Regions from separate parts of the Homo sapiens genome. Here all the other regions are linked to region 1. Evidence: fine-mapped expression QTL. A gene starts in region 1. Each other region holds a variant in brackets. All regions are shown on one strand. Distances are from middle to middle. Region 1 holds the start of MCM6 (minichromosome maintenance complex component 6). Region 2 holds the start of LCT (lactase). Region 3 overlaps R3HDM1 (R3H domain containing 1). Region 4 overlaps LCT (lactase).

Evidence for each region. PIP is the estimated chance that this variant, and not a neighbour inherited with it, causes the effect. A credible set is the group of variants that fine-mapping cannot tell apart.
Region 2: its variant is the best candidate, but not a certain one, in a credible set for the expression of MCM6 in whole blood (TOPMed, PIP 0.69).
Region 3: its variant is the best candidate, but not a certain one, in a credible set for the expression of MCM6 in whole blood (TOPMed, PIP 0.64).
Region 4: its variant is the best candidate, but not a certain one, in a credible set for the expression of MCM6 in thyroid (GTEx, PIP 0.86).

The regions. Positions count from the first base shown.
Region 1 is chr2:135,872,683-135,878,328 of GRCh38, forward strand. It overlaps MCM6 (minichromosome maintenance complex component 6), which reads right to left and starts at 3,761. Exons shown (of 17, transcript NM_005915.6): 1 at 3,577-3,761; 2 at 15-161. The coding sequence starts at 3,683. RefSeq lists enhancers at 2,851-3,386, 3,156-3,285, 3,976-4,035 and a silencer at 3,356-3,515.
Region 2 is chr2:135,833,067-135,838,712 of GRCh38, forward strand. LCT (lactase) reads right to left here and starts at 4,118. Exons shown (of 17, transcript NM_002299.4): 1 at 3,464-4,118; 2 at 45-124. The coding sequence starts at 4,103. The variant G/T (reference allele first, on the strand shown) is at 3,124.
Region 3 is chr2:135,713,101-135,718,746 of GRCh38, forward strand. R3HDM1 (R3H domain containing 1) reads left to right here. Exons shown (of 27, transcript NM_001378107.1): 24 at 2,450-2,594. Among named protein-coding and RNA genes, the nearest start is that of UBXN4, 26 kb to the right of the region's middle. The variant C/T (reference allele first, on the strand shown) is at 2,948.
Region 4 is chr2:135,813,409-135,819,054 of GRCh38, forward strand. It overlaps LCT (lactase), which reads right to left. Exons shown (of 17, transcript NM_002299.4): 6 at 3,933-4,653. Among named protein-coding and RNA genes, the nearest start is that of LCT-AS1, 4.0 kb to the right of the region's middle. RefSeq lists an enhancer at 3,982-5,181. The variant A/G (reference allele first, on the strand shown) is at 2,651.

The sequences.
Region 1 (5,646 bases):
TAATATGCCCATACCTATAGAACTCCTCTTGAATGGTGGTGGAAAGTTGCTGGTTAAATTGTTCCAGGTCCACAAAACTCACAACCAATGTGTTTCTCTCAGGACGAATCAGTTCCTCTGCTAATTGCAAGTATTTAATTTCTCCATCGCTGCTCTGAAACCTGCAGGTACATTCGAGTCAACTAGATTAAGGACACAGGCAGTACAAAGAACCTGAATGATAATTCAGAACATTGGTTAAAGTCCAACAACTAGGCTCAGACAGGCCCATGTTTGGCAGTTCTGTAACTTGGGGCAAGTTACTCCTCCCTTCTGATATGGTTTGGCTGTGTCCCCACCCAAATCTCGACTTGAATTTCCACATGTTGTGGGAGGCACCTGGTGGGAGTTAATTGAAGCATGGGGACAAGTCTTTCCCCTGCTGTTCTCTGATAGTAAGTCTCACGAGATCTGATGGTTTTAAAAAGAGGAGTTCCTCTGCACAAGCTCTCTTTGCCTGATGCCATCCACGTAAGACATCAGTGACTTGCTCCTCCTTGCCTTCCACCATGATTGTGAGGTTTAACTGCTAACTAACAAAAAAACCCAACAACTAACTCTTCTTTTACTACTGTCATGTATAATTAAGATTGGAAAATGTTAAATCAAGAAATTCAGTCTCAAACCCAATGATTCCATTTCTGTAGGGAATTTGCAAACTAACAAATTAGTCAGGGATTTAAGAAGCAGAACAGAAATAAGAATACATGGAAATGAGGTGTTTCACAGCCCAAGACTTCGGGAAAATTGAAACAGGCACACTAAATAAAGCTGCTGGTATTTTTGCTTCTAAAGCCCAAGCAGGATATCATACAAATTTATTTCTGTTCTTTCAAACATAATATGCAGATTCGCCTTAAGAAAAAATCAATTTCTCCTCCATATACAGCATGTTCTGACTCCTTAAAATATTTGTTAAACAACTACGTGCAAAGCCCTATAACAGAGGTACCTGAGGCTGAAAATGGCAGTGTTGTTCCTGCCCTAGGGTTAACTAACACTTTGTCTGCGTCTAGGGAGTTAGACATGTAAGCAATGAAGACAGACAAGAAAGATGTTCCTGTTAATGAGAAGAACAAGAAATGTGCTAGGGGAATAGAAACTAATTCTGCCTAAAAAAACAACTACAAGTTATACATATAAAAGGTGGCGTTGGAATTCAGCTTCTGAAAGAGTTAAAAATTTCAAATAAAAACAGGTGGTGAAGTGACTGACTAGATGATTCCAAGAATGTGATTAAGTCAGAGAAGGTAGGGGAGAAGTGTGGATGATGACTGGGGTGTTTTTGTAAGACAAACAGGAAAGAGGAGTGATGAAGAATTTGAACTTTATTCCACAAGCAATGGTGAATTAAAGTTTATTTTGTGACAGGGAGTTGGCATTTCTTTAAACAAAGCACAGAGATTATTTGTCTCATCATTATCATCTAGCTGCAAAGTCAAGGCACTTAGATTATTTGTTGAAATGAAACGTTTATTGAAAAACCTTTGTAATGTGATGTGGTGGGTAGGTGGGGTTGAGGATGGAATTTGAATTCCAGACTAAGTAGCTAGGAGGTAAATGTGTTACACTGCCAGAGATAATGAAAAACAAACAGCACCCTGGGAGCCTAAGGAAGAAAGGATTAGTGCCTCTCAAAAAGGTGTACAAGGTTTCACAAAGGTGTGAGTTTTTAGCTGGGCTTTGAAGGAGGAACTATCAGGCAGACAATAACATTGCCATAGGTAGTGAAATGGAAATTAAATTATGGTTTTAAGTATACCAAAATTTCCTAAGAAGGCAGCATTATTCACAATAGCCAAAAGGTGGAATGAACCTCATTATTCACAATAGACAAAAGGTGGAATGAACCTGTGTCCACTGAATGGATAAGCAAAATGCAGTATATATACAGGTTGAGCAGCCCTCATCTGAAAATTTAAAATATGAAATGGTCCAAAATCTGAAACTTTTTGAGTGCTGACATGATTTTCACTGGAGCATTTCAAATTAGGGATGCAATTGGTTAAGTATAATGTAAACATTCCAAATCTGAAAAAAAAATCCAAGATCCCAAACTCTTCTGGTCCCAAGCGTTTCAGAAAAGGGATACTCAATGTGTACAGACAATGTTATTTAGCCTTAAAAAGTAAGGAAATTCTGACACATGCTACCTCGCAGAGGAACCTTGTAGACATTATGTTACACAAGCCAGACACAAAAGGACAAATACTACACGCTTCCACTTATATGAGGTACCTAGAGTGGTCAAACTCATAATGAAAGGAAGCAGAGTGGTGGGTGACGGTGGCTGAGGGAGAGGGTAACGGAGGAGAGTTCGTGTTTAATGGGCACAGAATGTCAGTTTGGAAGATGAAAAGAGTTTGGAGCCGGACACGGTGGCTCACGCCTGTAATCACTTTGGGAAGCCCAGGCGGGGGGATCACCTGAGGTCGGGAGTTCAAGACCAGCCTGACCAACATGGAGAAACCCCATCTCTACTAAAATACCAAATTAGCCGGGCGTGGTGGCGCATGCCTGTAATTCCAGCTAGTAGGGAGGCTGAGGCAGGAGAATAGCTTGAACCCGGGAGACGGAGGTTGCGGTGAGCTGAGATGGTGACACTGCACTCCGGCCTGGGCAACAAGGGCTAAATTACGCCTCAAAAAAAAAAAAGTTTGGAGATGGGAGAGTGGTGACGGCTGCACAACGAGGTGAATGCACTTAGTGCCACTGGACTCTACACTTAAAAATGGCTAAAATGGTCAACTTTGTTATGTATATTTTACTAAAAAAGAACTTCAAAAGCCATTCCAAACTGCTGACCCTTCATCCTGGAGGCCGTGGTGTATCTGCTCCAGGAAAAATAACCGGTGGGTGAGGCAAGCCAGGGAGGAGGTTGGGGTTATGAAGCTAGGAGCCCAGAGGCACAGAAAAAAAGAAGAGTAGAGAAAGGAAAGGAAGGCCAGAGGGAAAGGGGAGCAAGGGACCCAGAAGAAGGGATATGGTGAGCTACTCTCTGCAGGGCAGGGCTCCGCCCCCCAGCAGCTTTCAAACCACAGTTGACGCAGAAACTTTCATCAGCACAAGAGGCGAGGGTGGCCCGTGCCCTGCGAACCCCCAGCACCATGCTCCCGGCTGCGTGGCCCAGCAGGGCACCGACGAGATTCAATGGCACTTCGGCCTCCCACTCGACCTGGCCGCACCCAGCGGCCCAGTTACTATACTCAGCGAGCCCAGGTTTCCGCGCCGGTCACCGAGGGCTGTGCAAATACCAGGCTCGCGGGGTGGTGAGCATCAAGTGACAGAAGCAAAGCGCTGAGCACTGGGCACGAGCGTCTTAGGGCTCGAGATGGGTTTTACTCCAGAAAAACCCAGCCTGTCCCAGGCTCCTCGCGGCCGCCGGGCTCGGAGCCTAAAGTTGGGGGGCGGGCGGGGAGGCGCTTCCCGGACGCGCGACCCCCAGGTTCCGGAACACCCGCCGCCCACACGGCACCGCCTGGCCCAGACGCCGCAGGCTCCGGAGGCGGGCGAGGCCCGGGGCGCTCGCCGACTTACTCCTCCAAGAAGTCCAGGAACAGTTTCTGGCACTTCTCGGCCACCTCGTCGCGGACCTCCAGGTGCTGGCTGCCGGCGCCCGGCTCCGCTGCCGCCGCGAGGTCCATATTTGCTTAGTGCCGAGGATTCGCCTGCGCCACGCTCGACCGCCACAAGTCGCTTTTTTCCAGACGCTGCAGCTTTGCGCGCGCCGCCGCCGCTTCCGCCCCGCCCCCTCTTCCGACCTGCACGGCCGGAACCAATCGTGACACAGGAGCTGGAGATTTCGCGCCAAACCTGACCAATGAACGGCGCCTCTCCAAGAGCCCCAGCCCACGGAAAGGGATTTCGCGCCAAATGCAAAGCCCTTCTGGAGAAAGCCCATCTGCCTTTGCGCCTGCGCAGTGTAGCCGTGGCCCGCGGGTATTTTTGGCTGCTGGAACAAGTTCGAATCTGAGGGTTTTGTCCGAGTGGTTTTTCAAATGTTCTTTAAATCATTCCACTGATATTAATTGAACGATCGGAGTAAGACTCTATGGAAGAGAAAAATGAGTAAGCCGCTTCTGCTGTCTAGTTAGAGGAAATAATGGAAACCACAGTATAAAACCCTGTAAAAGAGTCAAAGAGATGTCTAAACCTTGCATGGGTAAGGTGGCACAATTATTGTGGTGGTGCTGACCGAGGAAAATCAGCGAAATATTTGACATTGGCCGGGCGCGGTGGCTCACAACCTGTAATCCTAGCACTTTGGGAGGCCGAGGCGTGTGGATCACCTGAGGTCAGGAGTTCGAGACCACCCTGGCCAACATGCAGAAACCCCATCTCCCCTAAAAATACAAAAATTAGTCGGGCGTGGTGGTGCACGCCTGTAATCCCAGCTACTCGGGTGGCCGAGGCAGGAGAATCGCTTGAACCTGGGAGGAGGAGGTTGCAGTGGGCCGAGATCGTGTCACTGCACTCCAGCCTGGGCAACACAGTGTGACTCCGTCTCAAAAAAAAAAAAAAAAAAAAGAAAGAAAAAGAAAAAGAAAGAAATATTTGACACTTTGATTAATCTTTTTTTCTTTTTCTTTTCTTTTTTTTTTCAGATGAAGTCTCACCCAGTCGCTCAGGCTCGAGAGCAGTGGCGCGATCTCGGGTCACTGCAACCTCCAGCTCCCGGGTCCAGGGGATTCTCCTGCCTCAGCCTCCTGAATAGCTGGGATTGTAGGCGCCCGCTACCATGCCCAGCCAATTTTTGTATTTTTAGTAGAGACAGGGTTTTCGCCATGTTGGCCAGGCTGCTCTCAAACTCCTGACCTCAGGTGATCCGTCTGCCTCGACCTCCCAAAGCGCTGGGATTACGGCCGTGAGCCACAGCGCCCGGCCTTAATACCCTTCTTAAAATGCACTATTGGCTTGAGTTATCCTTATGTTTTTTTCCCCCATCTTTCCCTAACCATTTCACTTGGTTTTTCTGCCATCTCTTTGGCCATTCCTGATTAGCATCCTTTGTAGGCGCCTCTCCTTCAGTGAGTCTTTTAAATGTTCTGGTTCCAGAGCCTTCTTTTCCCGTAAAGTCGCTCTCTTGGGCGACCCTTTACACTCCCTTGGCGTTAATTAACATCTGGGTACTGATGATATCTATATGTGTATTTCACCAACCAGTACCTTTTTTTGGCCTCCAAGACATTAAGAGAAACGGGGACCACTTCCATTTTTTGAGGCTTGTTGCATATTAAAAATATTTTTTCTTTCTTTTCTTTTTTTGAGACGAGGTCTTACTATGTTGTGCAGGCTGACCTTGAACACCTGGTCTCCAGCAATCTGCCTGCATCCGCCTCCCGAGTAGCTGGGATTTCCTGCCACCACCAAATCCAACTTATTGAAAAATTTTTTCTTTTTCTTTTTTTTCTTTCTTTTCTTTCTTTCTTTCTTTCTTTTTTTTTTGGAGACAGAGTCTCGCTCTGTCATTAGGCTGGAGTGCAGTGGCAGGATCTCGGATCACTGCAGCCTCTGCCTCCCAGGTTCAAGCAATTCTTCTGCCTCAGCCTCCTGAGTAGCTGGGACTACAGGCGCACACCGCCACGCCCGGCTGATTTTTTTTGTTTT
Region 2 (5,646 bases), 40 kb before region 1:
AACTCTCCTCAGATGTTACAGGTATATTTTTGGGCTGCTGTCACCTGGGCAAGCGCAGATATGGGTGGTTCTAGCAGGAGCTCCGGGATATCTTCAGCTCGCAGGACAACAGAGAGTTTTCCGCCTGAAACCAACCAGAGACACGAACAGCAGGTGAGCGAGGGCAGGAGGCTCTGACTGTGGAAACCACTGGGGGATTCATTTCCTATGGACCTGAAGAAATCATCCAAATGACTTTACTCTAGCTGAAAGATTTTAGAAGACAAGGTGGCTTAAAAAAATAATGTTCCTTTAGAGAGTGTTTTGTGAAAATCAGGACTATGAAATGCAGAGCAGTTGGAGAGTTGGCAAGGAGAGAACTCCTTCCTAAACTTCTTTTTTTTTTTTTTTTTTTTTTTGAGACGGAGTCTCGCTCCGTCGCCCAGGCTGGAGTGCAGTCGTGCCATCTCGGCTCACTGAAAGCTCCGCCTCCCGCGTTCACGCCATTCTCCTGCCTCAGCCTCCCGAGTAGCTGGGACTACAGGGGCCCGCCACCACGCCCGGCTAATTTTTTGCATTTTTGGTAGAGACGGAGTTGCACCGGGTTAGCCAGGATGGTCTCGATCTCCTGACCTCATGATCTGCCCGCCTTGGCCTCCCAAAGTGTTGGGATTACAGGCGTGAGCCACCGCGCCCGGCCATCTTAACTATTTTTAAGTGCACAGTTCAGTATTATTAAGTATATTCACATTGTTGTGCAACCAATCTCCAGAACTTTTTCATTTTTCTGAACAGAAATTCTACTCCCATTAAAGAGCTCTCCATTTCTCCCCTACCCCAGCCCCTGGCCTCTGCCATTCTCCTTCCTCTCTCCATGAATTCGACTGCTCTAGTTTCCTCCTATACATGGAATCATACAGCGTTTGTCTTTTTGTGTCTGGCTTATTTCACATAGCATAATGTCCTCAAGGTTCATCCATGTTGTAGCATGTGATGATTTCTTCCCTTTTTAATAAATGTGGAGTAATATTCCATTTTATGTCTATGCCACGTCTCGTTTATCCATTCATCCATCAGTGGATATCTGGGTTGCTTCCACCTTTTGGCTATTGTGAATAAGGCAGCTATGATGTCCTAGTTTATTTTTCATTTATTTTTGAGACAGAGTCTCGCTCTGTCGCCCAGGCTGGAGTGCAATGGCGCAGTCTCGGCTCACTGCAACCTCCGCCTCCCAGGTTCAAGCGATTCTCCTGCCTCAGCCTCCTGAGTAGCTGGGACTACAGACACGTGCTACCACGCCTCGCTAATTTTTTGTATTTTTAGTAGAGATGGGGTTTCACCGTGTTAGCCAGGATGGTCTCGATCTTCTGACCTTGTGACCCGCCTGCCTCAGCCTCCCAAAGTGCTGGGATTACAAGCGTGAACCACCACGCCTGGCCTTATTTTATTTTTTTGTTTAAGGCCGGGCGTGGTGGCTCACGCCTGTAATCCCAGCATTTTGGGAGTCCGAGGCGGGCGGATCACCTGAGATCAGAAGTTTGAGTCCAGCCTGGCCAACACGGTGAAACCCCATCTCTACTAAAAATACAAAAATTAGCCAGATGTGGTGGTGCGTGCCTGTAATCCCAGCTACTGGGAAGGCTGAGGCAGGAGAATTGCTTGAACTCGGGAGGCAGAGGTTGCAGTGAGCCGAGATCACACCACTGCACTCCAGCCTGGACAAAAGAGTGAGACTCCATCTCAAAAAAAAAAAAAAAAAAAAAAAGAAGAAGAAAAAAATGTTTAACGTCTCTATAATCAAATACATGCAAATTAACAAGACATGAAAATAAGCTGTTTTCAGCTGTCAAATTAGTAATAAAATATAGCATTTGAAACTGACAGAATGGGGTCAGAGAGTAATTTTATAACTGTTCGTATAAATGATTACAACTTTTCTGGAAAATAATTTAGTACCATGCTTTAAAATCTTAAAGAATGCAGATCTTTTCACCTAGTAGTTTCAATTCTAAGATTCTGTCAGAAAGAATTTATCAGAAGGTGGGAAATAGTTTATAGATAGGAATGTCATTGCAACATAACTTGTAACTAGTGAAAATTAGAATAAACATACAAAAATAAGGAAAATACCTTAAACTTTATGCTCCATTTATACAATGGGAACCTAAAAGACCATTGAAAGTTATGCTTTCAAGTTTTTCTTTTGTTTTAAGCAATACTATTCCAGCACTGGAGTAAATTATTATATTATTTTAGAGATAGTGGCTCTCTATGTTGCCCAGGCTGGTCTCCAACTCCTGGCCTCAAGCAATCCCCCTGCCTTGGCCTCCTAACGTGCTGGGATTATAGGCATGAGCCACCATGCCTGGCTCAAGTTTTTAATAAAATGAGAATATAGTCATAAACTATGTTAAAATGAAAAAGTAGAACATAGAAGTATATATATATATATATATATATATATATATATATATATATATATATATCAGGTACTATATATACAAATATGTATGTATATGGTATATAATAAAAACAAGAAAGCATATATAATCCAAAATTGATTCTCAAAATTGGTGTACCTAACATACACTTAGGGAATTGATTATAATCACAAATGTCCTGGTTCAGCCTAGGCCTACAGATCAGAACTTCAAGTCCCCTAGGAGGCAGGAATGTGAACAGTTACAGTTGTGCTCTCCTCATCCTGTGATATATAATTGTTTCATCTTGTATTTGTCTGTCTCCCAAGCTGCAATGTAAGCTCCAACTAAGACATGTAAGTATAGGGGAGCCGAGGGGGAAGGACAGGAAACCACGAAACTTTGCCTCCAAGTCAGGGTAGCAGGACATAGACGGAAAGGAAGACAGAAAGACAATCAGTGCTTGCACAACTCAAGACTGGGCAAGGGGTATTTCAAAAATACATGTGTGTATATATATATATATATATATATATATATATATATATATGTATACATATTTTTTTTTTTTGAGATTGTGTCTTGCTCTGTCGCACAGGCTGTAGTACAGTGGCATGATTTCGGCTCACTGCAACATCTGCCTCCTGGGTTCAAGCAATTCTCCTGCCTAAGCCTCCCGAGTAGCTGGGATCACAGGCGCCTGCTACCATCCCTGGCTAATTTT[G/T]GTATTTTTAGTAGAGACGGGGTTTTGCCATATTGGCCAGGCTGGTCTCGAACTCCTGACTTCAAGTGATCCGCCCACCTCGGCCTCCCAAAGTGCTAGGATTACAGGCGTGAGCCTCAAAGATATTTTTCAAAGGAAATGCTGAGTGTTTTGCCATGTTAGCTACCCCTTCCTATCGCCAGTGGGAAATCAATTTACAATATTAATTTCTCCCTATGCACAGACATAAGAGGACTGCTGAAGGTGAGTTGGGAGAAATGTCGAATCTGCTCTAAGGAGGATGGGGAAGGTGTGTGATGAAGGTTGCCGAGGGGTCACCATCAGGTCAATGTGTACTCACCCTGAAAAGCATAGCTTTCGTGGTAAATCTCATAGGCTTTTCTGTGGGCATCACTGAGGGTCTGGAGTTGTGACGCTCTTGATTCCTGGTGGGGAAGCTCCTTGATCACTTCCTCCAAGTCACTGAAGGTGAACCAGATCCCAACTAGGTCCCCGAAGGAGTGGAAGGCGAATGTGGCATAGTCGGCGAAGAGGTCAGCAAAGGCTTCGGTTCTCCGGAGGGTGCTGGCAGGGAGGGTCTGGTGGTGCAGGATGACCATGGGCTGAAGCCGTGCAGTCTTGAGGGCCTTGAGGAGTCGCCGGTAGCACTGCACTGTTTTCTCGTCTGGATTCTGGGTGCTTCCTGCTGGGAGGAGCTGTGCCCATGACAGAAATACCTTATAATGGGTGATCTGACTGGCATGGAGACTGCTGAAGTATTCTGGCAGGAAAGTGGGCAGTGGCTGGTGACAAACATACATGTCTTTGTCCCCTGCTACAAAGTTAGAACTCTGGTCTCCCAGGAGACCACTCAGGTTGTGCAGCAAGTCATTGGTTAGAGGACCAGCGGTGGAAATGAAATTTCTATCAGACTCCCAGTCTGACCCCCAGCATGAAAAACTTAGCAGGGCAATAAAGACTACATGCCAAGACAGCTCCATTTTCTAGGAACTGTTAGGAGGTATGTGGAACCCTTACTTTATAACTGCAACTGAGGTTGTAAAATACTAAGTGATAATTAAGACTTAATATTTAACTGGGTTATCTATGATCACAAAATCAGTACACGGTTCACTAATGCAATATTTAAAAATGTAAAGATCAGGGCCGGGCGTGGTGGCTCACACCTGTAATTCCAGCACTTTGGGAGGCCGAGGTGGGCGGATCACGAGGTCAGGAGATCGAGACCGTCCTAGCTAACATGGTGAAACCCCATCTCTACTAAAAATACAAAAAATTAGCCAGGCATCGTGGCATGCGCCTGTAGTCCCGGCTACTCAGGAGGCTGAGGCAGGAGAATCACTTGAACCCAGGAGGCGGAGGTTGCAGGAGCCAAGATCATGCCACTGCACTCCAGCCTGGGCAACAGAATGAGACTCCATCTTAAAAAAAAAAAAAAAAAAAAAAGGTAAAGACCAACACAAAAACCTCAGACTTCCTATACAAGTTAAGCAGAGGAACCCGGAAAATGTCTGAAGAAAACGATTACCAATTTTTTTTGTTTTTTTTGTTTTTTGGTGACCGGGTCTCACTCTGTTGCCCAGGTGGGAGTGCAGTGGTGCGATCACAGCTTCCTGCAGCCTTGACTTCCTGGGCTCAAGTGATCCTCCCATCTCAGCATCCTGGGTAGGTGGGACCATAGGTGTGCGCCACCACGACTGGCTAATTTTTTGTATTTTTAGTAGAGATGGAGTTTTGCCATGTCACCCAGGCTGGTCTTGAACTCCTGGGCTCAAGCAATCCTCTTGCCTCAGCCTCCTAAAGTGTTGGGATTACAGGTGTGAGCCAGCGCACCCAGCCACACATTATTTTAAAATTTGTTTACATAATACAAAAATAAGTATTTTGCCCCAAATTTTCTCTTTAAAAATATGCTGAACATATTTTGTAAGAGATTCAAACAATATGGAAACATCTATGAAAAACTTGCAAATTCCTTCACCCTCCCCCCTCCTCTTCCTATAATAAGTATCTTCAGCAATATGTATCTTTCCAGTTTTCTTTCTCTGCATATCTTAATGGTTATACAGGAGTCAGAATGCCTGGGTTTAAATCTCACCTGACAAAAATTACTTAACTTTGTGCCTCTATTTTGTCACCTGTAGAATGTGGATAATTCATCATAGGCTGTGGGGATTAAATGGGTCTTTCTTGTAGCATGTATACAACAGTACAGCTCAGGGATCATTATTATTACGTAAATACAAATGGAAACGTGTATAACATTTAAAATATAGAACAATTTAACATATATGGAATTATGCCATATGTATTTTCAGCCTTTTCTTCACTTAATAGCTCTTAGAGTTCTGCCTGTATCAGAACATATAGACCCACCTCTAACAGATGCATAGCTTTCCACAGCAAGAATGTACCATAAATTAACATCTTGCATATTAAACACCGGTTGGTTTTACATTTTTGTGTTGCAAACAATGCTGCAAATGAATATCCTTATATACAGGCTGGGCATGGTCAATCACG
Region 3 (5,646 bases), 160 kb before region 1:
CTGAACCAGGAGGATTGCTTGACCCTGAGTGGTAGAGGCTGCAGTGAGCTGTGATCACACTACTGTACTCCAGCCTAGGTAACAGAGTGAGACCCTGTCTCAAAAAAAACAAAAGGAGGGGGAACAAAGGTTATTACAGATCAGCTCACAAACTACCAATGGCCATTAAACAGATGAAAATATAAAACTACTTTTCATCTATATAATTGGGAAAATTCAGGAAGACCAATAATCTGCCGTAGTAATAGTTTGGCAAAGATCAAGTTATAAGCTCTGGGACTCTCTTTGTGGTAGTGTAAATTGGTACAGCTCTTTGGAATGCACTTTGGAGACATTTTTCAAAATGTAGAATTTGATCCACAGATATGCTTCTGGAACTTTACCCAGTAAAAATTAAATAATAAGTGCAAAAATATGTGTACAATATTTCTTTTTTCCTGTTGTAATATTGAAAAACTGTGAACAGTCTTGACATTCACCAGTGGGTAACTGATTATTACTGTGCCATTTAGGAAAATGCCCTTAAGTGTGTAATACTGAAAAGAATAAGATAAACCTACTATTGAAATGGTAGTTTGTAAATAACCAGTCTCCATTAAAAGGAACTAGGGCTCCTTAGAAAAATAACTGTTGCCAGAGTTGGTGCAGGGAAAGTACCAGATGGGTGTAGGCCATCTTGGCTATGCCAGAAAGTAAGGAAGGGATGGAAGAAAAATAGGGACGTCTTGAAGAATACAGGATCAGGAGTGGAGGTTTGGGGCATAAAACAATGATAGAAATGAATGATCATCCATAGAATAAAATAAGAATTCATGAGTCCATACTGATAAAAATCAATAAATGGAAAATGAAACTGTCTTACCTTAGTGTAATATAAAGTGATAAATGTAGAATCGTGAAATTAAAAGATCACCACCAAGAAAACCATCAGGCAAGAGTCACCACTAGAGGCTACAAAACTAGTGGGTGAAATTCTGAGGAAAAGCATAATTTTTTTTTAAAGTATCTCCCTACAAGATACTTAAAACTACAAAGGAAAAAAATTGTAATTTACAGTGGAGAAACCTGATAGGCACCATGTTAACAAAGCAGTCGAAGTAAATATCACCAATACTGTGATGAGAGATAGACGTCAGGTTCCTTCTGATGTGATCCATTGAGAAGGACACATTACTTCTCTGGTGTTCCTTTCCCAAATATATAACATGAACTTTTTAATGAGGAGACAGCAGACAAACCCAAATTGAGGGACAGTCTACAAAATAACTGATCTTCCAAAACAAATCTTCAGAAATGTCAAAGTCATGAAAGAAAGAAGAGACTGTGCTGTTCTGCTTCAGATTAAAGAAGATTAAAGAGCCATGACAACAAAATGCAGCCCTTGATTCTAGTCTGGATTCTGGACTTGAAGGGAAACATTTTTCTTATCTTTTGCTATAAGGGACATTAGTGGGACACTTGGCAAAATTTAAATTAACTGTAGATTAGATAATACTATTGTATTGTTAATTTTCTGGCTTTTATTCTACTTTGATTATATTATAAAAGTCCTTGTTGTTAGGAAATAGACACTAATTATTTTGGGTTAAAGGAATATCATGTGAAATTCACTTTCAAACAGTTCCAAAAAACACAGTGATATATATGTATATATATGGGTGTATACACACACACACACACACACACACACAGAGAAAGCAGTGTAATAAAAGTTAAGATCATTTGGGAAATCTGGGAATTCTTTTACAATCTTAGGAACTATTCTCTAATGAAATTATTTAAATATGAAATGTTACAGTATTTAATATGAAAAAAGAGTGAGTTCGCTGTATGTATTCTCTCATGCAAAAGTATCGGCAATATTATTGCCAAGGTACAAAAGCAAGTTTTGAAAGTAGGATGTATAGTCTGTTCCCATTTTTGTGAAAAATGGATGTATGAATGCATGTGCATAGAAACAATCTGTTGGCCAGGTGCGATGGCTCACGCCTGTAATTCCAGCACTTAGGGAGGCTGAGCCAGGCGGATCACAAGGTCAGGAGATCGAGAACATCCTGGCTAACACAGGGAAACCTCATCTCTACTAAAAATACAAAAAATTAGCTGGGCATGGTGGCGGGTGCCTGTAGTCCCAGCTACAGGCTGGGACTGAGGCAGGAGGCTCAGGAGGCTGAGGCGGGAGAATGGCGTGAACCTGGGAGGCAGAGCTTGCAGTGAGCTGTGATTGCGCCACTGCACTCCAGCCTGGGCAACAGAGTGAGACTCCGTCTCAAAAAAAAAGAAAAAAAAGAAACCATCTGTTACCAGTGTTTATTTTGGGGAGTTGCAGATCACATGCTTCTATAATGTTTGAATTATTTTCTAACAAGTACGTATATGTAATCAGGAAGAATAAAAAATAAGCCTGCCCAAAATGCTGACCCATTTTCTTGACGTATTGTAATTGCAGCACAGCCCTCAACTCAGTAGCCCCATTATTTCACCAGCTCAGTCGCCAGCACCAGCTCAGCTGTCCACCCTGAAAACTGTACGTCCCTCTGGACCACCACTTTCCATCATGCCCCAATTTTCTAGACCTTTTGTCCCCGGGCAAGGTAAGTGCACATGAAACTAGTCACAACTTCAGAGAATTTAAGACATCCATTCCCAGTCACTTGGTAATTTATCTTGGTAATATTGCCTTTCTATTTTCCATAGAGCTGCATCTTCACCTACACTCAGGCATGTCTATTTGTGACCATATACCCTCCTAACCTTAATGTATCATTGCTAATTAATAATTATTAATTCAGTAATTACTTCTGTTTAGTAATTACATGATCACATTAAAATCACTTTAACTTATTCTTAGAATCCATTCCTCTATAGTAATAATACACAGTTTTCTACATTTTTTCGGTATTTTAATTTCTACTTAGAGTAATATATATCAAAAGTTTATCCAGGC[C/T]GGGCGCAGTGGCTTACGCCTGCAATCCCAGCACTTTGGGAGGCCAATGCGGAAGGATCACTTGAGGCCACTCAAGACCCTGTCTCTAGAGAAACTACAAAAATCAGCCAGAAGTGGTGGCACATGACTGTAGTCACAGCTACTCAGGAGGCTGAAGCGGGAGGATCACTTCAGCCCAGGAATTTAAGACTGCAGTGAGCTCTGATTATGCCACTGCATTCCAGCATGGACAGCAGAGCAAGACTCTTGTCTCAAAAATAAAACAGAAAAAAGAGATTATCCAAAAATTTATTCAGCAATCATTTATTAAGGAAATGGCTATGCCCTTGGTGTATAAAGATGAATAAGGAGAAGTCCTCACCCTCACTAACCCTTAGTCTACTTTGGGGAGCAGATATGCAAGCAGATGATTATAAACTAATATGGAAACCATTTTATTTCCTAGAATTTATCCTAAGGATAATGCACACAAAGATTTATATACAGAAGAGTTTATCCTATAGCAAAAAAAATTTACAAACAACCTAACTCTGTACATCAATGAGGAATACTTAAATTATGGTATATTCATACAAGGAATATTATGTAGCTATCTAAAGAATCACTAAAAGGGGGCAATATTCAGGCTAGGTGCGGTGGCTCACACCTGTAATCCCAGCACTTTGGGAGGCCCAGGCAGGTGGATCACAAGGTTAGGAGTTCAAGACCAGCCTGGCCAAGACAGTGAAACCCTGTCTCTACTAAAACTACAAAAACAAGCTGGGCGTGGTGGCAGGCACCTATAATCCCAGCTACTCGGGAGGCTGAAGCAGGAGAATCACTTGAACCTGGGCGGCAGAGGCTGCAGTGAGCCAAGATCGTGCCACTGCACTCCAGCCTGGGCGACAGAGAGAGGCTCCGTCTCAAAACAAAAAACAAACAAAAAAACAAACAAACACGGGGAGCAGTATTCACAATATGGTAAGTGATTTTGAAAAACAAGTTACACAGACATTTTGAAGTAGTATGCAGATGTCTAATAAGCCCTTGAAAAGATATTTAACATCAGTCATTATAGAAATGAATATCAAGCCAGAATACCACTTCACACCCATTAGAATGGCTATAATCAAAAAGACGGACAACACCAAATGTTAGTAAAGAATGTTCTCACTTGCCAGGCATGGTGGCTCACGCCTGTAATCTCAGCACTTCGGGAGGCTGAGGTGGGTAGATCACTTGAGGTCAGGAGTTCGAGACCAACCTGGCCAACATAGTGAAACCCCATCTCTACTAAAAATACAAAAATTAGCCGGGCACAGTGGCACATGCCTATAATCACAGCTACTTGGGAGGCTAAGGCAGGAGAATTGCTTGAACTCGGGAGGCAGAGGTTGCAGTGAGCCAAGATCGCACCACTGCACTCCAGCCTGGGCAACAAGATTGACACTGCATCTCAAAAAAAAAAAGAAGAATGTTCTCCCTTGAAAGTGGGAGCTAAACATTGATGAACACAAAGAAGGGAACAATAGACACTTGGGTCTACTTGAGGGGAAAGGGTGAGGATTGAAAAATACCTATTGGGTACTATGCTTATTACCTGGGTGATAAAATAATAAGTACACCAAACCCCCACAACATGCAAAATCCACATGTGAGTATTTAAAAAATAATGTTGGTAAAGATACAGAGCTACTAAAATTCTCACACATTGGCGGTAAGAGTGTACAGTGATGAAACCGCTTTAGGAAAAGGTATGGCAGTTTCCTAAGACTTTAATCATTTACCACATAACCCAGCAATTCCACTCCTGGGGGAAAGAGAATTGAAAACATGTTCACATAGTCTTGTGTACGAACATCTATAGCAACCTTATTTTATAATAGCTCAAACTGGACATGACCAACATGTCCATCAACAGGAGACTGGATACCCAAACAAGTTGTGCTATATCCTTAAAAGGGTACTACGCAACAATAAAAGTGAACAAAGCAAGCTACTGACACACAACAACATGATGACTCTCCGGGTCACGACGTTAACCAAAAAATAAGACAAAAAGAGAATATATTCTATATGATTCTAATTATATGAAATCCAGCTGCAGACAAACTAATCTGTTATGTTAAAAATCAGATAGTAGTAGAGATGGGGTGTGGAACTGACTGGGAAGGGACTGGAGGGAACTCTTCCAGGGATGGAAATGTTCTTTAAGGGGGTGGGGGAACAGGGTATGGTTACACGGACTTTTACAGTTGTTAGAATTCATCAGATTCAACACTTAGAATGTTTATTTTATTGATTGTATTGTATGTTAATTATATCTCAATTTCCTTAAAAACTTACACACACACATATGCATGAGTCAGCCCACACATGTAGAAGACTGAAAAGATAGACACCAAAATGTTAGAAGTGATGGAATTACCAGAGTGGGTTTTGTTGATGTTGGTTTGTTTGTTGTTGTTTGTTTTGAGACACTGTCTTATTCCATCGCCCAGGCTGCAGTGCAGTGGTGCACTTGTGGCTCGCTACAGCCTTAACCTCCCCGGGCTCAGATGATCCTCCCACCTCAACCTCCTGAGTAACTGGGCTTACAGGCACACCACCACACCTGGCTAATTTTTGTATTTTCGGTAGAGACAGGGTTTCACCATGTTGCCCAGGCTAGTCTCGAACTCCTTGGCTCAAGCAGTCTCCCCACCTTGGCCTCCCAAAGT
Region 4 (5,646 bases), 59 kb before region 1:
AACAAAGTCAACAAGTCAACAGCAATTCTTCAAAATTGTCAACAAAATAACAGCATCAACAACCACATTAACAATAACAACTAACATATATTGGGCACCTACTACTTAATGAATTCTCTCATGTAATCCTCACCACAACCTCATATGGCAGGTACAATTATTATCACCACTATAGAGATGGTGAAAACAAGATCCAGAGCTGTGTAGTAACTTCACAAGGCCAAGAGTCAGGAGTAAAGTGAGAACAAGCCCCTGGCAGTCTGATTCCAAGCCTGTTACTGTTACCCACACTGCTATTCTGCCTCTGTCCTTAATAAGTGCTTTTTGAGAAATTAGTCCATGGGGAGGATTATTTTAATTAGCACACAAGGGAGAGGAGGGCTCTTTCTTGCTTATTTGTTCTTCTTTCTATTTAATGGAATCTCGGAAGAAAAACCAAACTAGGAGTTTCTTTGTAGACTTAACTCATGCTCTTACAAACAGCAACAGCTTTTTGTGGGAAGTAGGGGCAAAAGGAGGGTGTCTGAAATATAACAAGCCTAGATTTAAATCTTGACTCTGTTACTAACTTGTTAACTTGGACAATTTATTCTCTCAACTTCAGCTTACTTGTTGGCAAGAAGTGGGTAATTATGGATCCATCTGGGATGATTAAATACGTGTATATAAAGCATTGAGCAGAAACTCAGAGAGCAGGAGTGAGCTTGCTAAATCTTAGCTTGCTTTCCTTTTTCCTTTTTATCATCTGAAGAGGATGACACTTACCTCTGAAGAATTTCATGTCAAAATATGCCATAATCACTAAAACGCCTGGCTGCTTCTCACATCCCAAATATTCGTCTTTAGTTGAGTTCTAAACTCGAATGGCAAACTGTGCTCCTTTCCCAAAAGCAAGGATGTCTTTCTTCTAAATTAGCCAGTGTCAGGAAGGGAGCTCAGTGGAATATTAGACAACCATCAAAAACAGTCATCACAACTGCTTAATAATAGGGAAAAGTGCTAATGACATGATATCAAGTAAACAGTGAGCAACAATCTGAGGTGCCCTGTGACAACATCATAAATGCAAAGAAGCCAAGACTGGAAGGAAATACTCTAAAATAATAAAATACCTTTTTTTTTTTTTTGAGATGGAGTCTCGCTCTGTCACCAGGCTGGAGTGCAGTGGCGCAATCTCGGCTCACCACAACCTCTACCTCCTAGGTTCAAGCGATTTTCCTGCCTCATCCTCCAGAGTAGCTGGGACTACAGGTGCCCGCCACCATGCCTGGCTAATTTTTGTATTTTTAGTAGAGACAGGGTTTCACTATGTTGGCCAGGCTGGTCTCGAACCCCTGATCTCGTGATCCGCCCGCCTCGGCCTCCCAAAGTGCTGAGATTACAGGTGTGAGCCACCGCGCCTGGCCCAAGACATTTTTTTCTTTAAATTTTTTCCTTAATAGTTGCTATGAACTGAATTAGTTCCCCCATCAAAATTCATATGTTGAAGCCCTAATCCCCAATGTGATGGTATTTGGAGATAGGGCCTTTGAGGGGTGATTAGATTTAGAGGAGGTCGTGAGGGTGGGACTCTCATGGTGGTGGTATTAGTGTCCTTATAAGAAAAGATACCAGTGAGTTCTTCCAACCACCCCTATATGAGGACAGCAAGAAGGTGGCTGCCTGCAGGCCAGGAAGAGAGCCCTCACCAGAACCCAAACATGCTGGTCCCTTGATCTTGGACTTCCCCAGCTCCAGAATGCTGGGAAATAAATATCTGTTGTTTAAACCACCAGTCTATGGTGTTTTGTTATTGCAGCTCAAGCTCACTAAGACAATGGCATTCTAACATTGAACTAATAAATAAAGGGAAGAATTGAAGGAGAAGAGTGAAGGGGACTTTCTCATCAAAGTCTCTGTAAAGATATCTCAAGAGCCACAGTTCAAAGGGGAAGAAAAGCCTAAGAAGAAAAGGTTTAGATAAGTTTTACAACAAGGAGTGAAACAGAAGATTTCAAACCTTCCATTTTCAGAAGGTGGGTGGTGGAATGGCTCCATATGTGCAGTCACTTGCTGCTCAAGAGCTGAATGGAAACTCTGACTTACGTGCTACAATGTTTGACATTTCATTGAGTTATTTATTCATGATGTTCCAGCTCACCCTAGTAATGGTCTTTTTGAAGAGTTCTGTAATTTTGCTACGTGTGTTAGTGTCATCTTCCCCAAAAGGTTATAACATGTCCAGGGCATGGCTGTGACCCCTCTTTAACACCTAGCACGGGACACAGGAAATAGTATTATTATTATTATTATTATTTTTGAGATGAAAGTCTCGCTTTGTCACCCAGGCTGCCCAGGCTGGAGTGCAGTGGCATAATCTCGGCTCACTACAACCTCCGCCTCCCAGGATGAAGTGATTCTCTTGCCTCAGCCTCCCAAGTAGATGGGATTACAGGCACCCACCAACATATCTGGCTAATTTTTGTATTTTAGTAGAGACAGGATTTCACCATGTTGGCCAGGCTGGTCTTGAACTCCTGACCTCCCAGGTGATCTGCCTGCCTTGGCCTCCCAAAGTGCTGGGATTACAGGCGTGAGCCACCATGCCCGGCCGGAAATACTCATCTTTAAGAATGGAACCCAAACAGTGACAGGGAAAAGGCAGACTAAC[A/G]TGTCCATCCTGAAGAACGCTGCCAAAGAAAGCTGGTGGGTTTTCTGGGAGATTCCGAAGAAAAAGGGAAATAATGGAAAAGACCTATAGCCATTTAAAATTTTGTGCCAAGTGTATACATCCCCTTCTTGTTGAAACGATGCCCTGACTGGCGTCTGGAAAGCCAATGCCTCCTTGCCTCTTCCCTCTCTGCCTCCTCAGCTCTCAGTGAGCGTATTGAGGAGTAAAGCATGGGTCCTTGGCCCACACCAGTCAGTTGTCACAGCCTCCTGGCCAGGACCCAGCAATGAGTTCAGGGTGGGTATGCGACCCACTGAGAGACCATGAGACACAGGGACACTTCTGTTGGGAAGGACAGAAAAGAGCCGAGCTTTTTTCCCTACTGGTCATGAAATAACAGAAACAGGGCTGCTGCCATCTGGCTGCAAAGTAGCCCAAGAATAAAGCCAACGAGGGGAACAGGAGAGGAACTGGGTCCTGGTGGCATCGCTTGTGCTCTGATCAAATTCCACCCTGATCAGGCTAAATGAAGAATTTTCAACCTCCTGAATGTGTAAATTCTCTCCTTGCTTAAGTCACTTTGGGTTGAGCTTTCTGTCACTTGTCACTGACATGAGGAACTTGATTTGGAGTCAAGAAGACTCGGACTCAAATCCTGACTTCCACCTGGCTACTCACTAGCAATGTCATCATGACCACATTGTTTATCCTGTCTGAGCCTCACTCATCCATCAGTGCTATTCTGAGTATGTAATAACTATTATATTTTAAAAGTACCAGTAGAGGGTCTGGACAAAATAAGGTGATTAACAATTTTTTTTTTTTTTTGAGACAGGGTCTTGCTCTGTTGACCAGGCTGGAGTGCAGTGGCAAAATCTTGGCTCACTGCAGCCTCTGCATACCAGGCTCAAGCGATCCTCCCACCTCAGTCTCCTGGGTAGGTGGGATCACAGGCGTGCAACACTATGCCCAGCTAATTTTTGTATTTTTTTTGCAGAGACAAGATTTCGCCATGTTGCCCAGTCTGGTCTCGAACTCCTGGACTCAAGAAATCTGCCTGCCTTGGCCTCCCACAGTGAAGAGATTACTGGCATGAGCCACTGCACCTGGCCAGGTGATTAACAATTTAATTAACAATTTATGGTTCCTTCCCTCCCCGATTTCCTTTAAAGAAAGAACAAAAAGTAAAGGCTTGCTGATGGAAGAAAACAGAGAAAATGACTTTCTTCCAGCCAATGTCCTTTCTCCTCCAATTAGTAGGAGCTGCAGGGTTGGGAAGTACCTTAAAAGAGGCCACTCCTGGGTCAGAGATGCCGGGAGGGTGCTGGCCGGTGCCATAGCCTGCGTAGCTCATCACCCACGGCTCATGGAAGGTCACCCACAGCTTCACACGGTCCCCAAATGTGGAGAAGCAGAAGGCCGCATAGTCCAGGAAGGCATCCACCACGCTCTCATTCTGCCATCCACCATGATCCTGCAGGGCCTGAGGCAGGTCCCAGTGGAACAGCGTGGCCATGGGCTCGATGCCCGCATCCTGTAGCCTGTCAATCAGCTTGTTGTAGTAGGCAACGCCTGGGAGGCTGGGGCTGCTCCCGTGCCCCATGGGGAAGATCCGGGACCAGGAGATGGAGAACTTGTACACCTGAGCCCGGAGGCCGCAAAGCAGGGCGACGTCAGAGGCTACCTTGTGGTAACTGTCGCTGGCCACCTCCAGCGTCGCTTGGCCCTCAGTGGTGTTCAGGGGCCTGCGTGGATCCCAGATGCTCACCCCTCTCCCACCCTCGGCCCAGCCTCCTTCCACGTTAAAGGCTCCTGTGGAGGCACCCCAGAGGAAGCCTTCAGGGAAAGTATCCTGCAGGAAGGCATCCCTTTCCGCCCTGGACTGATTGGCAAATGCTTCCCAGATTCTCTGATAGGCAGAGGCAGGAGAGGAGTCCGTGGTCTCGTGGTCCTGCTGCTGGTCAGGCTGAAGGGCCAGGCTGCCAGTCAGAGAACAAGACATGCTGCAGGATTGAAGGGACAAAAAGGGACATAATAATGAATGACGCTGGCAGTTACAAATGCCCCCTACGGATGACTACTGTGTTTAATCAGAAAAGATTCCAGAAACACTGAGTCAAAAGTCATATCTGCAAAGCCATGGGCAGGAAGTAACTGGCAGATGGGAAAATTATTATTATTACCCCTTCTGAGGTGAGTGATTCTTGCTCTTTCATGGTTAAAACAGGAACAATGCTACTGTTCTCTGTATTAGATTGCCCTTGAATATTGTCTTCAGTGTTAGTACCATACTTTATTCTTCTTATAATTCATTATTTGTAAAACATAGCTAATAATAACAATGACTCCAATTTATTGAGCCTTGATTCTGCGCTGGCCACTGTAATAAGAATGGATGTGTATTATCTCATTTAATTTTCCCAACAAATTTATGAGATGGGTACTACAATGATTTATCCTCATCCTACACAGGAGGAAACTGAGACTAAAAGAAACGGGGGCTGGGTGTGGTGGCTCATGCCTGTAATCCCAGCACTTTGGGAGGCCGAGGCAGGTGGATCACGAGGTCAGAAGTTCGAGACCAGACTGACCAACATGGGGAAACCCCGTCTCTACTAAAAATACAAAATTAGCCAGGCGTGGTGGTGGGGGCCTGTAATCCCAGCTACTCAGGAGGCTGAAGCAGGAGAATCACTTGAACCCGGGAGGCAGAGGTTGTGGTGAGCTGAGATCACGCCATTGCACTCCAGCCTGGGCAACAAGAGTGAAACTCCGTCTAAAAAAAGAAAAAGAAATGGAAAACTTCCTGATTTCAGGGAGCCAGCAGCTATTTATCAGCTGGTACAGAAGTACACTGATGTGGACCAGTTGAATATCAGTCCTGGCTACTGCTTCCTTTCTTCATGCTGCTTGGATTTCTGACATAATGGCAGGAGCTCAAGCATCCATCCTGAACCATGAGGTAGAAACCTTGTTAAAGGTGACAAAGCAACAAC